Homo sapiens: one gene and its partners. The protein of the gene in region 3 purifies or fractionates together with the protein of the main gene of each other region. This does not show direct contact. Each region holds a gene or a part of one and is shown on either strand. Other genes may lie near its edges.

Region 1 (3,500 bases), on a different chromosome or scaffold from region 3:
ACCCGGCTGATTTTTTTTTTTTTTTAAGGTGGAGTCTCGCTCTGTCACCCAGGCTGGAGTGCAGTGGCGCAATCTCAGCTCACTGCAACCACCACCTCCCGAATTCAAGCGATTCTCCTGCCTCAGCCTCCTGAGTAGCTGGAACTACAGGCCTCCGCCACCACACCTGGCTAATTTTTGTATTGTTAGTAGAGACGGGGTTTCACCATGTTGGCCAGACTGGTCTCGAACTCCTGACCTCAAGTGATCCACCTGCCTCGGCCTCCCAAAGTGTTGGGATTACAGGCATGAGCCACCGTACCCAGCCGATTTAAGACTTTTTTGTGCTGAAATTCTGTGTGTGAGAAATGTTGGTCTTAAGTCAAATTACATTTTTTTCCTTTTGCTTTCTTAGTTAAATAGACTACAACCTTAATATGGTTCACTGGATCTCAACATAATTTGATTTTTCTTTTGGCAGGTGCTGAAGAAAAAATCCTAACAGAATTCCGTGAAGCTTGCCATATTATACCTCATGACTTTCACCTGCAGGCCATGGTTCGTTCAGCCGGCAAACTGGTTCTTATTGACAAGTTGCTTCCAAAGCTTAAAGCTGGTGGCCATAAAGTTCTGATCTTCTCTCAGATGGTGCGCTGCCTAGACATCCTAGAGGATTATTTAATCCAGAGGAGGTAAGAAAAGAGTCATCCTAGCCTGTGGTTACTCTGTCCTCATAAAGCAGCAAAAAGTAGGAGGGCCTGGATTTAATTAGAGTTCACCAATTGCAATAAGAGAAGTTTTTAAGATTCTCACTCTCAACTTGGGTTTTTGACCAGCTTTGATATGGGAGTACTGGTATTGATCCTAGCCTGCTGTTTTGGTCTCCACTTCTGCTTAGCCACTTACATTTTTTTTCTGCGATTCCCATACAGGTACTTATATGAACGTATTGATGGGCGAGTTAGAGGCAACCTTCGACAGGCTGCCATTGACCGCTTCAGCAAGCCTGACTCAGACCGCTTTGTCTTCTTACTGTGTACCCGGGCTGGTGGACTTGGTATTAATCTTACAGCTGCTGATACCTGCATCATCTTTGATTCAGACTGGAATCCACAAAATGACCTGCAGGTAAAGGAATTCATTGTCTTAGGGACTAACTACCTAACTTGGGAGATTTTTCAACAAGAATAGGATCTTTTAGAAAGACCTTTCACAGAGTTTGGAATTGTTTCCTTAGTTAAGGGTGGCAGTTAGGTCAGGGAATCAGCAAACGTTTTCTGTAAACGACAAGACAGTAAATGTTTTAGGCTTTGTGAGCCATCGAGTCTTTGTTGCAACTGCTTATCTCCAAGTCCTGTAGCGCAAAAACAGCCATAGATAATATGTAAATGAGTGGGTGGTCCCACCTGTGTCCCCATTGAACTTTATTTTTAAAAACAGATGTCCACACAGACTTTAGTTTGCTGACCCCTGGTCTACATGATGGGGTGATAATTTCATCTTGAAATTGACTCTTGGTTTTGAGTTGATCTCATGGCTGCTCTATAGAGGTGAAAGAATCATAAATTGGTATTTTGTATCCTTTCCCTTGCTAATTTTATGATATCTTTCTCCTTTCCTTTCGTTTTTATTTTAAACCAGGCCCAGGCACGATGTCATCGAATTGGGCAGAGCAAAGCTGTGAAGGTGTACCGCCTCATCACTCGTAATTCCTACGAGAGAGAGATGTTTGATAAGGCCAGCCTCAAGTTGGGGTTGGATAAGGCTGTGCTTCAATCCATGAGTGGTCGGGATGGCAACATTACTGGAGTGAGTCCTCTTAGTTTATAGATAAGTTTGTAGTAGATCATTGTGATAGAGGGAAACAAAAGCTATTTGTACACAGGGATTTGACTACCTTGTTTGGATTCTCAATTATTATTTCTTAAAATATAATAGCTAAAATATTATGGCATGGTTAGATATTATTCTCTTGATAGTCTTTTCATCTTTCTATTGGTTTTTACAGATCCAACAGTTCTCTAAGAAGGAGATTGAAGATCTTTTAAGAAAAGGAGCATATGCAGCCATCATGGAGGAAGATGATGAAGGCTCCAAGTTTTGTGAAGAGGACATTGACCAGATCTTGTTAAGACGAACTACAACCATCACCATTGAATCTGAAGGAAAAGGTTCCACCTTTGCTAAGGCATGTTCTGTCTATGCCAGAGGCTAGAAAAACACAGAGACCGGAATCTCTAGGATTTAATTATGTTTTTATGCTGGGGATGGTGGCTCATGCCTATATTCCCAGCACTTTGGGAGGCTGAGGCGGGCAGATCACTTGAGGTCAGGAGTTCGAGACCCAGCCTGCCCAACATGGTGAAACCTCATCTCTACCAAAAATACAAAAATTAGCCAGGAATGGTGGCTTGCGCCTGTCGTCCCAGCTACTCGGGAGGCTGAGGCAGGAGAATCACTTGAACCCAGGGGGTGGAGGTTGCGGTGAGCGGAGATCGTGCCACTGTACCCCAGCCTGGGCAACAGAGCAAGACTGTGTCTCAAAAAAAAAATGTTTTTAAAACATAATTGCTGATTTTGCACCACTTAAAAAAAAAAGTCAGCTTTACCTCTGCATTTGTTTTTCTCTAGGCAAGCTTTGTTGCTTCTGAAAACAGGACAGATATTTCTTTGGATGACCCCAACTTTTGGCAAAAGTGGGCCAAAAAGGCTGACCTAGACATGGATCTGCTCAACAGCAAGGTGAGTTTCTTCTTTTAGGGAGGAAGTATCGCAGAAGACCACACTACTTTCGGGAGTCTTTACAGCTACTCTGATTATTTGATGCTAATTGTGATTTATGATGGTGTATTGTATACAAGGGCTGTTGTGGATACTTTCTACCTAGGAGGCCCCAGAAAAGTAGTTGCTTTCTGAATAATTTTGCTTTCTGTAGATTATTTTACATGTCATTTAAAAAAATCTCTGAGTATCTACACGTTACATCCAATGTTATTGTAATCCCTAATTGTCTTATTCTTTTCCCATGAGCAAATCAGGAAGAGAATTACTTCTCCTTCTGTTCTCTTCATAGAATAATTTGGTAATTGACACACCTAGAGTACGAAAACAAACGCGCCACTTTAGCACTCTGAAAGATGATGACCTGGTGGAATTCTCTGATTTGGAAAGTGAGGATGATGAGCGGCCACGCTCCCGCAGACATGACCGTCATCATGCCTATGGGCGCACTGACTGCTTTCGGGTGGAAAAGCATCTCCTGGTATATGGGTAAGACCCCAACTTACCATTAGAGGTAGTGCATAGTGCATCTCCATCCTGATAGATACTCTTGGTTTGCCTTTCAAATTGGGGGCTATGATCAAAGAAGGGATAATGTGAAAAAATATTTGCCTTGGAGGGAGTTTGTTCTGTTTATTCTGTTACCATGTTTTTTAAGATCTTTGTTTCACACCTTTTCAGAGACATGATTCTGAGGGACAGGGGACTGTCATTTCTCAGAAAAATGTTAATATAGTTTT
Region 2 (3,500 bases), on a different chromosome or scaffold from region 3:
TGTTAGACTGGTCTTCTTGTGAAAGACTGTCTTCTAGGATTTCCGGGGATTGATGTATCTTTTCAAGGTGGAAATAGAACAGTCGCCTTGAAAGAATTTCCGTTAGGGAACCCGGATAGTTGGCATTTTGCATGTTTTGTTATTTTGTTGTGCAGTAGGTGCTCTCTGTGTTTGTGGAGTATACCACATAGTTTTGTTACCACTCTAGTGCATCGAGGCAGATAGGATCAGATTGAGAGATGTGTGCTACTCCTCGGGTAAAATGAGGTATTTACTGGAGCCAGTTAACTTCTATCACAAAATGCCCAGCCTTGGAGTTACACTTTTTGTATGCTTTATTCTTGGGAGCTGTGCTTAATTCACATAACAAAGCAACTTAATTAAAATTAGCCTGTAGAATTCCATAATCGTGATGATTGTGATGAGAAGTATTTCACGTGCTTTGTTTGAATTATTGCATTTAATCCTCACAGCAACCCTGTGAGGTAAGTTCTATTATCCTGATTTTACAGATGAACAAACCGAGGCTGCTAGAAGTTGGTAGCGCCAGGGTTTGAAGCAGGCGAACTCCAGAGCCTCTCTCCTGCCTCTCGTGCTCTGCTCCTTCAGTAGCTGGAGGTGCCATTGCATGTTGCAGGCCAGGAGTCACAGTATACACAGACTGTCTTTTCTGTATAATGAGCAAAAGTGCCAATCATTTTTAAATTCTTGGACTCTTTAGGAAAAAGACGTCTACCTGGTGGAGCACCGTGGCAGGTTGCCTCAGCGTGGGAAGTCCCATGTACTTCCGTTCAGGTGCTCAGGAATTTGGAGAGCCAGGATGGTGGAAACTTGTTCATAACAAGCCCCCAACGATGAAACCTGAAGGAGAGAAGTTGTCTGCCTCTACTTTGAAAATAAAAGGTACTGTTGTGAGAACAGTACAAAAGTTGCTAGTCAGACCAGAGCCAAGCAGGTGTGAGCCCAGGAGACGCTCCTGCTTCCACTGGGCATGGCTCGCAGGCCTCTCTGGAGCTACTCTGTTTAACACTTCTGTGATGACACTTGTGTGTGTGCTAGAAATAAATGCCACATAAAAACATTTTATCACTTCCTAATCAAGCTATCAGTTTTATAAATTTCCCAGGGTATCTGAAAGGTTCAATGTTTTCCATCTGGTTTTTGTTTTTAAACTTCTCACAAAGGTGAAGAGATATTTTAAAATTCCCGTAATAAATAACATGATGAATTCCCATGTACCTTCCACCTCACTTTGACATTAACTCCTGACAGTCTCATTTTATCTAAATCCTCAGTACTTTTCCCCAACCTTCCCCATTCTTACAATTGGATTATTTAGAAACAAATCCCAGGAATCAACATTTCATTCCTAAATATCTTAGTATGTATCTCTAAGAGATCAGGATTCTTTCCTTTTTGCAGCCTGACCATAATGCCATTTTCATATTTAAAAAGATGTTAACAGTGACTTCTTACTATCACATATTGATCTGGTTTTATAATCTAAAAAGCTTTTAATGAGCTTTTAAATTTTTATATTTATTTGTTTGCTTGTTTGTTTATTTATTTGAGGTACAGTCTCGCTTTGTTGCCCAGGCTGGAGTGCAGTGGTGCAATCTTTGCTCACTGCAACCTCTGCCTCCTAGGTTCAAATGATTCTCGTGCCTCAGCCTCCCAAATAACATGCCACCATGCCCAGCTAATATTTTTGTATTTTTATTACAGACGGGGTTTTGCCATGTTGGCCAGGCTGATCTCGAACTCCTGACCTCAGGCGATCCACCTGCCTTGGCCTCACAAAGTGCTGGGATTACAGGGTGAGCCACCGGATCAGGCTGATGAGCTTTTAAAATTTTAAAAATATGATTGGGAAGAAAATCAAATAGTACTTAAGGGTGTAAAGTATGAAAGTTCCCCCACCTGCCTATGGCCTGCAATTTCACTTCCCAGAGTAACCACTGTTGTCTTTTGTGAATACTTTCAGAAAGATCTCTGCAGATTTAAGCATTTTCTTAGTTTTTTAAAAAAGTAAAATGGACTCGTACTATTATGAGTTTTCCATTTTTGCCACACTTACCAGTATGTCTTGGACATCTTTCCATGACAGTACATGTAGATTTACCCTATTTTATTTCATTACATCCATTATATAATTATGTGATAATTTGTTAAACCATTCTCCTGTTGATGGACATTTTGGTTGTTTCTACCTTTTTGTTGCTATTTTATTTATTTATTTTTTAATTAAAACATTTTTAAAAAGTAATAGAGATAGGGTCTCGCCATGTTTCCTGGGCTGGTCTTGAACTGTTGGGCTCAAGTGATCCTCCAGCCTCTCCTTCCAAAAGTGCTGGGATTACAGGCATGAGCCATCATGCCTGACCTTTTGTTACTTTAAACAGTGCTACAATTCTACAAATTTGTGTACATGTGAAAATGTGATAAATTCCTGGAGTTTCTACATCAAAGGGCATATTCATTCAAAATTTTAATCAGGATTGCCAAATTATCCTCCAAGAAACTGTAATAAGGCCGGGCATGGTGGCTCATGCCTGTAATCCCAGTACTTTGGGAGGCCGAGACAGGTGGATCATCTGAGGTCAGGAGTTCGAGACCAGCCTGGCCAACATGATGAAACCCCATCTGTACAAAAATACAAAAATCAGCCGGGCGTGATGGCGCATGCCTGTAATCCCAGCTTCTCTGGAGGCTGAGGCAGGAGAATTGCTTGAACCCGGGAGGCGGAGGTTGCAGTGAGCCGAGATCACACCACTAACATTCCAGCCTGGGTGACAGAGCAAGACCCTGTCTCAAAAAAAAAAAAAAGTACCCATTGAAATGCCCATGAAAATGCCCATTTCCCCATACATTTACTGAGCTTTATCAAACTTTTTTTTTGGCTCACTGCAGCCACCACCTCCCAGGCTCAAAATCCACCCACCTCAGCCTCCCAAAGTTCTGGGATTAAGAGGCGTGCACCACCACGCCTGGCTAAACTTTTAATGTTTGCCAGTTCCAGTAGGTGAAAGATAGTATTTATTTGTTTAAATTTGCAGTATAACTTCTTTTTTCTCAAGAGATATCTAAGTCTTTTTTAGTTTAGGGCATTCATTGAACATTTCTCTTTATTGAACATGATATTACTCATAATAATAAATTAGCAAAAGAAACTAAAGTTGAGTAGTTATTTTAAAATTTAGATATGGGTTGAGCAATCCAAATCTGAAAATCCAAAATCAAAAACACTCCAAAATCTGAAACTTTTTCAGCACTGACATAACGCTCAAAGGAAATGCTCATTTGCAGCATTTCGGATTTTGTATTTCTGGGTTTGGGATACTCAGCCAATAAGTAAAATGCAAATATTCCAAAAGCCGAAAACATCTGAAATCCAAAACATGCTTGTGCCCAAGCATTTCAGATGAGGGATACTCAGCCTGTATTTATTCTTTCTTAGCAGCCTCAAAACCAACTTTAGATCCCATCATTACTGTTGAGGG
Region 3 (4,028 bases):
AGCAGGGAGTACCCAGGACACAGGCCAGCCTGGGATCTTTTGTCAGATCGTGGTGGATCTTCTTACACTGAGCGCTTCTTAGATCATTGGAGAAGACAAGGAGGGAGCTGGCAGTGGCTGCATCCAGGGTCACATCCTCCCGAAAATGCCGGAGCTCCTCCCTCACGTGCAGACTTTGCTCAAGTCGGCTATTGTGCTGCTTGGTCATAAGTGTTAGGACGCTCACTTGCCATTCTTCCAAAGCAGGTACCTTCACCACGTCTCGACACAAGGGGCACATCGCTCTAAAATCATGGTTTTCTAGTATATACCTCTGGATGCAATCAAAGCAGAACACGTGTGTACAAGAGAGAGAAATGGAACAGGAGAAAAAATCCAGGCAAACTGGACAGGACAACTCTGCTTGCAGGCGTTTGGCCATGGTTCTTAAGGGTTACTCCTTAGCCGTGAAGTAAACTGAAGTGATCCTTTATTGGCTTCTGGAAGCACTTGGGAGCCCTCAGTACACAATCCACTCTTCAATAGTCTAAATCCAAGATTAAATAATATAAATTAATAAATAAGTTATTGGCATACATAAATGAATTATATTATTTAATAAATAATAATAAATTTATTAACTAAGAAATTAAGAATAACAAAAAAATAATATTTCTGCAGTTTGTGTATGAAAGTGACACTAAATTGCTAGAGAATCACAGTAATGTAGTCATGGTGATAAAAATGATTTCGAAACTCTTCAAACTCTAGATAATCACAAGACAGAAATAGGACAGTGGAAACTTTCTTTTCAGACAGTGCAGCTTACCTAGTCTGAAGACTTCCAGGTGATGTGTTGGCTGCTCCGGCCAAAGTTTCTCCTAATGGGGGCTGAATTCAAGTGGGTCTTTAACAGAATCTCAGTATAGTCTCCACTCAGTATTTCTTTGTAGATCCTCTGCAGTTCAGGAAAAAGAATGTTCATGTCTAAATTCAATAATGAAAATAAAGCCAATTCTACATTAATCATCACAGAAAAGTGACTCTAAGGAATCCTCAGAATTTCCAGGAAAATTACCACATGTGAGTAAAGCCAGCAAAATCCACTGCAAAATGAGAAGCCCATAAAAGAATCAAGTTTAAGGACAAAGTGTTATTAGATGAAATGCTTTAAAGCACTCTAAGAAAACTAATTAAGGCTTGAATTAATGTGAATAAAAATATAATAGTCATCAACTTCTCCAAAATAATCATGCCTGAATACAAACCAAAAAGATGTTCCAGACAAGGAAGATGCCCTCCTGTTACCCCAACTGCTCCCAAAGCTTGAGAGCCTCTGGTGCTCCCAGAGGACTTCCCACCATGGCTATTATTCTTTGAGTGAGCTGTCTCTGACATGCTGGGCACAGCATATTGGACCAGGCTAGACCCATGACCCAAAGACAGCCTCGCAAAGCTGGACAGCACCTTTGAGATTATGTGAACAGAGGACTGTTCTCCAATAAGAGCCTGCACTGAGCAGTAACTAGCAGAACTCCTTACCAAGAACCCACAAATCACACATTCAGTGGTGACAGTAGTAACAGAATGAGGGACAGAAAGAGGAGCAGCATCAACATTACCAGAGAGAGGAAGTGATGAACACCGATGAGGCCAGCCTAAGACTGAGTTACTAGAACTGTCCTACATCCCAGAACACATTCTCTAATCTCTTTCCAACAAATACTTATTGAGCCCCTTCTGTGCTCTTGGCCTCAACTGGACTCTGGAAACACAAACGTGTGTAATAAACAGGGTATCTGCCCACATAAAACTTTGTCTTCCAAGTCCTGATCAGCATTCCAATCTCATGGTGCCTGGCTGGCGGACAACCAGAGATTACCTCTTTCTTAAATTCTGTTATCTTTTTCAATTTAATGGGAAATTTAACATGGTGCTGGAAATCTAATTGCCTAACCCACCTTGGAATGTATCTAAGAAAACAATTTTACAAAAGAAAAAAAATGCTACACTTATTCACAAGTTGTTCATTTCAGTGTTAACTACCATCCCAAATGATCAGGAACAATCGAATTATCTAACAATAATAAAATGATTCAGCTAATTATGACACAACTACTAAAAGTGGCCAAGTATATTTAAGTGAAAACCCGAAGTGAAGTCTTTTTTTTTTTTTGAGACGGAGTCTTGCTCTGTCGCCCAGGCTGGGGGTGCAGTGGCTCCATCTCGGCTCACTGCAACCTCTGCCTCCCGGGTTCAAGCAATTCTCCTGCCTCGGTCTCCTGAGTAGCTGGGATTACAAGCATGTGCCACCACGTCCGGCTAAGTTTTGTATTTTTAGTAGAGACGGGGTTTCACCATGTTGGACAGGCTGGTCTCTTGACCTCGTGATCCACCCACCTCAGCCTCCCAAAGCGCAGGCGCGAACCATGGCGCCCGGCCGAAAACCCAGAAATCTTTTAAGAAATGTTGGAAAATAAAAAGAAACCATTTTAAAACCATTTAAATCCATTGTAGTTGAAAACACATAAAAATACAAGTTCATGCAAAGAGTGACCTGAGGTTCATATGTAAAAATTTAAATGGCAAAGTTATAGTTAAAGGTGAAGAAAGCTCCCTGGCACAGGAAAAAACTAGTTCTTTCTCCTCTAAAATAAATAGTTAAAGGCATTCGAAAACACCAGTTTGTAGCCAAAGACAGAATAGGACATTGGAAATAGCTTAAACAGAAGGTATAACTTACCTTGACTTGGAGACTTCCAGCAGAATTCTAAAAGATCCGAAGCCTACGTCTCTACCTCTACAGACCTCTGCTCCTCTCGGAGTTTCCGCGGAGAGACACCAGCGTTTTTATACTGCCTGGAAAACATTGTCCAACCAATCAGAGTCAGAGGCTCCGCCCCAAAGGTTGTACCACTCTAATCTGAGTAAACTCATCAACCCACCCTTCCGTTTATGATGATGACATTAAAGCAGGCTTCAAATTATATAGTAAAAAAATTCAAAATTTCTTAATAACTCCCTGAATTAGAGTGAATCTACTGCCATCTGCTCTTGTCTCTAATTTCAGAACTCAACTTTAAAAAGCAAAATGTGTTGGAGATCAAATACAGAAATGCACTGCTGAAACCTAATCACCTCGTGGCTAATGTAATCATTGGTGTTCCTATTCCTGATAGAATCATGAGCGGACAGGATCTACAACAGTTTTCATGTCCTTTGACTCAACAATTCTACTCTTAGGGGTACTTACTGGACAGGATAAGAAAGATGGCAGCTAGGCAAGGCTATTGTCCTGTAATTATTAATAATTCCATTTTTTACTCTCAAAAGTGTTCTTGGATGAACGGTAAATTTTATGGTGTCTGTATCGAGAGCAGAAGGAGCAGTAAAAGTCACAACAGAGGAAAGCTAAGACACAAACTTCCAAAAAAGGATTTGGAGGGTGAATGAAGTCCCATTGTAGAGAGGATCGCTGGAATATACGTTTTCCCCAAGAGAGGCTGCATTCTAAATAACCTCTCCTTTCTCAGGCTTCCTGTTCTGCAAGGCCCAACACACAGCTTACACAGCTTTTACTTCATTTTTACCTGGTGCTATCTCCTTTTCTGTGAGTTAAATACTTGCAGGAGCAGGTCTCAAGCGTTGCTGGGGTTTTTTTTTGTTTTGATTTTTGACACAATCTTGCTCTGTCTCCCAGGTTGGAGTGCAGTGGCTCAGTCTCGGCTCATTGCAACCTCCACCTCCCAGGTTCAAGTGATTCTTGTGCCTCAGCCTCCCTAGTAGCTGGGATTACAGGAGGCCAAGGTGGGCAGATCACATAAGTTTAGGAGCTCAAACTTTTTAAATTGTAATCTCAAGACCCTTTAAACTTGAGATTTTAATCTCAAGAATCCTTACACTCTCTTTTTTAATTATTCAAAAATGTCATTTTATTTTTTCTTTCATTTTATTTTGAAATAATTTTAGACACAGAAAATTTGTAGGAATAGTAAAAAGAGATATATTCTTTACCCAGATTTACTATTTGTTTTTTAATTGTCTGATGT
Region 4 (3,500 bases), on a different chromosome or scaffold from region 3:
CTCGGCCTCCGAGAGTGCTGGGATTACAGGCGTGAGTCACGCACCCGGCCTGAAGATTCTTAAGGGAGTGATCAGTTCTACCTGCAAAGGTTGGAAGAAGCTTGTACAACTGATTCTTGAATTTTAATTGCATTTAATTAATAGGTGTTGACCAGGATGGGGAGGGCATTTAGGCAGTGCAATTAGAAACAGCCTAAGGAGGAGCCAGGCGCAGTGAGTGGTTCATGCCTGTAATCCCAGCACTTTGGGAGGCCGAGGTGGGTGGATCACTTGAGGTCAGGACTTCGAGACCAGCCTGGCCAACATGGTGAAACCCCGTCTCTACTGAAAATACAAAAATAAGCCAGGCGTGGTGGCAGGTGCCTGTAATCCCAGCTACTTGGGAGGCTGAGGCAGGAGAATCACTTGAACCTAGCAGGCACCCCACTGCACTCCAACTGGGGCGACAAGCAAGACTGTGCCTCAAAACGCGCGCGCGCGCGCACACACACACACACACACACACACACACACACACACAGCCTGAGGAAAGTGAAGAATGGTATCTTAGAGAAGGGAGAGTTTGGTTGCTGTGCAGGATGAAAAATCAAGTTTGAATAGATAGACTGGAGGTCATGGAGGATCTCTTGTCATGCTGAAAACATTAAATTTTATTGTCTTAACAAATGGGCAACAATAGCAGTTTTAAGCAGGGGAGAATCATTATCAAATGTGTATGTGTTTCAATCTAGAGGCACCTGCGTAGTGTGTATGTGGGTTTAGAGTTTGAGGAGAGAACTGGTTGGCAGGATGTTATAATAACCTGAATAGGCCGGGCGCGGTGGCTCAGGCCTGTAATCCCAGCACTTCGGGAGGCCGAGGGGGATGGATCATCTGAGGTCGGGAGTTCGAGACCAACCTGACCAACATGGAGAAACCCCGTCTCTAATTTAAAAACAAAACAAAAAAAAAAAACCGAGCCGGGCGTGGTGGCGCATGCCTGTAATCCCAGCTACTCGGGAGGCTGAGGCAGGAGAATCGCTTCAACGCAGAAGGCAGAGGTTGTGGTGAGCCGAGATCGCGCCCTTGTGCTTGGACAACAAGAGCGAAACTTCGTCTCAAAAATAAAAAATAAAAAATAACCTGAATAACCATCGTCTGTCTGCTCCCTAACACTCACAGGATTAGAATTTCTGGGGATAGTACTTAAGCTACCAAAGAGGATGCCATCACTCAGAGATATAGAGGTGATCAGAAAACTGCAAAAGAGACCTTCTTGTCTTTTTCTCTACCAACTGTTATGATTTGTCATTGCCACTAGCATGTATTTGGCAAAACTTGCTATGGCCTTGTTTGTCTTCCTTCTATAAAATGAATTTGTTCTAAAATTTGGAAATAGAAATTACTGTTTTTGTTCTTTCAGTATATTCCAGTGGGTTGCTGCAGAGTAATATTTTTATGTTTTCAATGCTTTTAGTTTACACTTAAATGTTTGTGTTGGAAATGTCTTTTCTGCTAATTCAGTTATTGGAAAAGGGCTGTAATTGAGTAGGGTAGTAAATACTAATTGCTTGTTTCTTTAACTGAATAACATTTTCCTATTGTTAACGGATTGACTACAGGTGTGCTGTTTGACTTTCTATTACTTGTAACTGAAGTTAGCCTCTCTTCCTCTACCCCCGCAAAAGTGTAGGAGACTGGGTGATGGTCTTGTATTCTCTACAAGTTGGTGGCGTTGTTTAGGCCCCAAGCTGGAATGCTGATGACCCTATGATTCTCTCCCTCCACCCTTTACATCTGTTTTATCATGCAAGTTCTGATGATTTTTAGACTATTTTTCTAGGCTCTGCTTCACACCTCATTGACACCTATCTTCCCTAATTAAGGTCTTTTTTTTCTGGCATGTATGTTGCCCTATTAACAGTAGCTTTCCAGAGGGTACATGGCTCACACCTGTAAACTTAGCACTCTGGGAGGCCAAAGCAGGAGGATTGCTTGAGCCCAGGAGTTTGAGACAAGCCTGGGCAACACAGGGAGACTCTTATCTCTACAAAAATTTAAAAAAATAAAATAACTGGGCGTGGTGGCACACATCTTATAGTCCCAGCTACTTGGGAGACTGAGACAGGAGGATCCCTTGAACCCAGGAGGTTGAGGGTACAATAAGCCATGATCTAACCACTGCACTCCAGCCTGGGTGACAGAGTGACACTGTCTCAAAAAAAAAAAAAAAAAAAGGAAAAATAGCTTTCCAACTGATCACAGTATCTGCAGTCTTCATTCCCTGATAATAAATCTCCACCTTGCTGCCATAGGCATCTCTCCTCTTTGCTATTTCGATTATATCACTGCTTCTGAAAACTCTGTAAGGTGCCTATAGCAATGGTTCTAATATTTGGGAGGGAGAAGGGGATTCAAATCTCTCTCTCTCTTTTTTTTTTTTTTTAAGGAGATAGGGTTTCTCTATGTTGACTGGGCTGGTCTTGAACTCCTGGCTACCAGCCATCCTGTCGCCTTCCAAAGTGCTGAGATTACATGGCGCTCTTGTCAAAATGGATGGACATTTACCTCTGAAATGTGCCCAAGTGCATATTTGCATTCCGTAGGGCTTTTTAGAAAATCACATTGAAGTTCTTTTACAAATCTTAACTTTTGAGGATGCTATAGACCATCTTATGTTTTTTTAAAATGCTGGGTTTTTGTTTTGTTGTTTTTTTTTTTTTTAAATGCCGTCGCATTTACTTGAAGTGCTCATCCACCCATCCCACTCTTGGATCCTTTAAAGCTCTGCTCAGGTCTTGTTTCTTCGAAAAAGCATCCCCACACTTTAAAAACAAAAAACTGGATTAGATACACATGCTTTCTGCTCTTATAACACCTTAAGAGTCTTACCCACTAACAGTAACTTCAAATTAGCAACTGAATCATTTTGCTTCCTAGTGTAGACCCTGGCCAAAGTAGGTATTCATTTAATGTTTATTAAATAAATATGTAAAGTTAGGACTTTTCAAGCATTTTCCTTTGAGTAAAATATTTACTATTTTGTAGCCTATGTTCTGGAAATATTGAACATCTAGATAATAGGTTATAAGGATTTTAACTAACTGGACACTTACCTATATTTTCTAAATTTTGGAAGACTTGATATTGAGGTCTCATCCAGACTAAAGTTTTACTAAATGGCATCTTTACAAATAAAAAAATTCAAGATTTCATATTTAGCTCTGAATGTCTGTTTCTTTAAAATCTCCTTGTTTAGCCAGTTTAGACTAATGTCTGAGCTAATTGTGTTTTCCTTTTTGGGAGAGAGGTTAGAAAAGGTCACTACATTTGAAAAGACCAGTTGTGGAAATAGTAATTTTTTTTAACTTATCAGTGATATCTGATGTTATCAGTATACTAAAAGTGGACATAGAACGTTAAAGAAGGAACCAAAGAGGCAAAGATACCTGGAGTTATTAGGGACCTATTTTGAGATTTTGTCTCTGGCACTAAGAATTTATTAATTTATTGAGTTTAGC

What was found. Proteins that work in one complex are often made in the same cells at the same time.
Region 1: the proteins of RFPL4B (region 3) and CHD8 purify together in Homo sapiens (affinity purification with mass spectrometry; 3 studies listed by BioGRID and IntAct, with this or other methods). This does not show direct contact.
Region 2: the proteins of RFPL4B (region 3) and KAT14 purify together in Homo sapiens (affinity purification with mass spectrometry; 3 studies listed by BioGRID and IntAct, with this or other methods). This does not show direct contact.
Region 4: the proteins of RFPL4B (region 3) and ZBTB10 purify together in Homo sapiens (affinity purification with mass spectrometry; 3 studies listed by BioGRID and IntAct, with this or other methods). This does not show direct contact.

Annotation. Positions count from the first base shown.
Region 1 is NC_000014.9:21,400,624-21,404,123, reverse strand, and holds part of CHD8 (chromodomain-helicase-DNA-binding protein 8), read left to right. Parts: intron 1-460; coding exon 461-671; intron 672-911; coding exon 912-1,107; intron 1,108-1,620; coding exon 1,621-1,788; intron 1,789-1,987; coding exon 1,988-2,167; intron 2,168-2,610; coding exon 2,611-2,721; intron 2,722-3,052; coding exon 3,053-3,249; intron 3,250-3,500. UniProt on the Homo sapiens protein: ATP-dependent chromatin-remodeling factor, it slides nucleosomes along DNA; nucleosome sliding requires ATP. Acts as a transcription repressor by remodeling chromatin structure and recruiting histone H1 to target genes.
Region 2 is NC_000020.11:18,158,363-18,161,862, forward strand, and holds part of KAT14 (cysteine-rich protein 2-binding protein), read left to right. Parts: intron 1-721; coding exon 722-903; intron 904-3,457; coding exon of another isoform or gene 3,458-3,460; coding exon 3,461-3,500. UniProt on the Homo sapiens protein: Component of the ATAC complex, a complex with histone acetyltransferase activity on histones H3 and H4. May function as a scaffold for the ATAC complex to promote ATAC complex stability. Has also weak histone acetyltransferase activity toward histone H4.
Region 3 is NC_000006.12:112,346,102-112,350,129, reverse strand, and holds the start of RFPL4B (ret finger protein-like 4B), read right to left. Parts: upstream 2,801-4,028; 5' UTR 2,723-2,800; intron 938-2,722; 5' UTR 809-937; intron 527-808; 5' UTR 422-526; coding exon 1-421.
Region 4 is NC_000008.11:80,492,726-80,496,225, forward strand, and holds part of ZBTB10 (zinc finger and BTB domain-containing protein 10), read left to right. Parts: intron 1-3,500. UniProt on the Homo sapiens protein: May be involved in transcriptional regulation.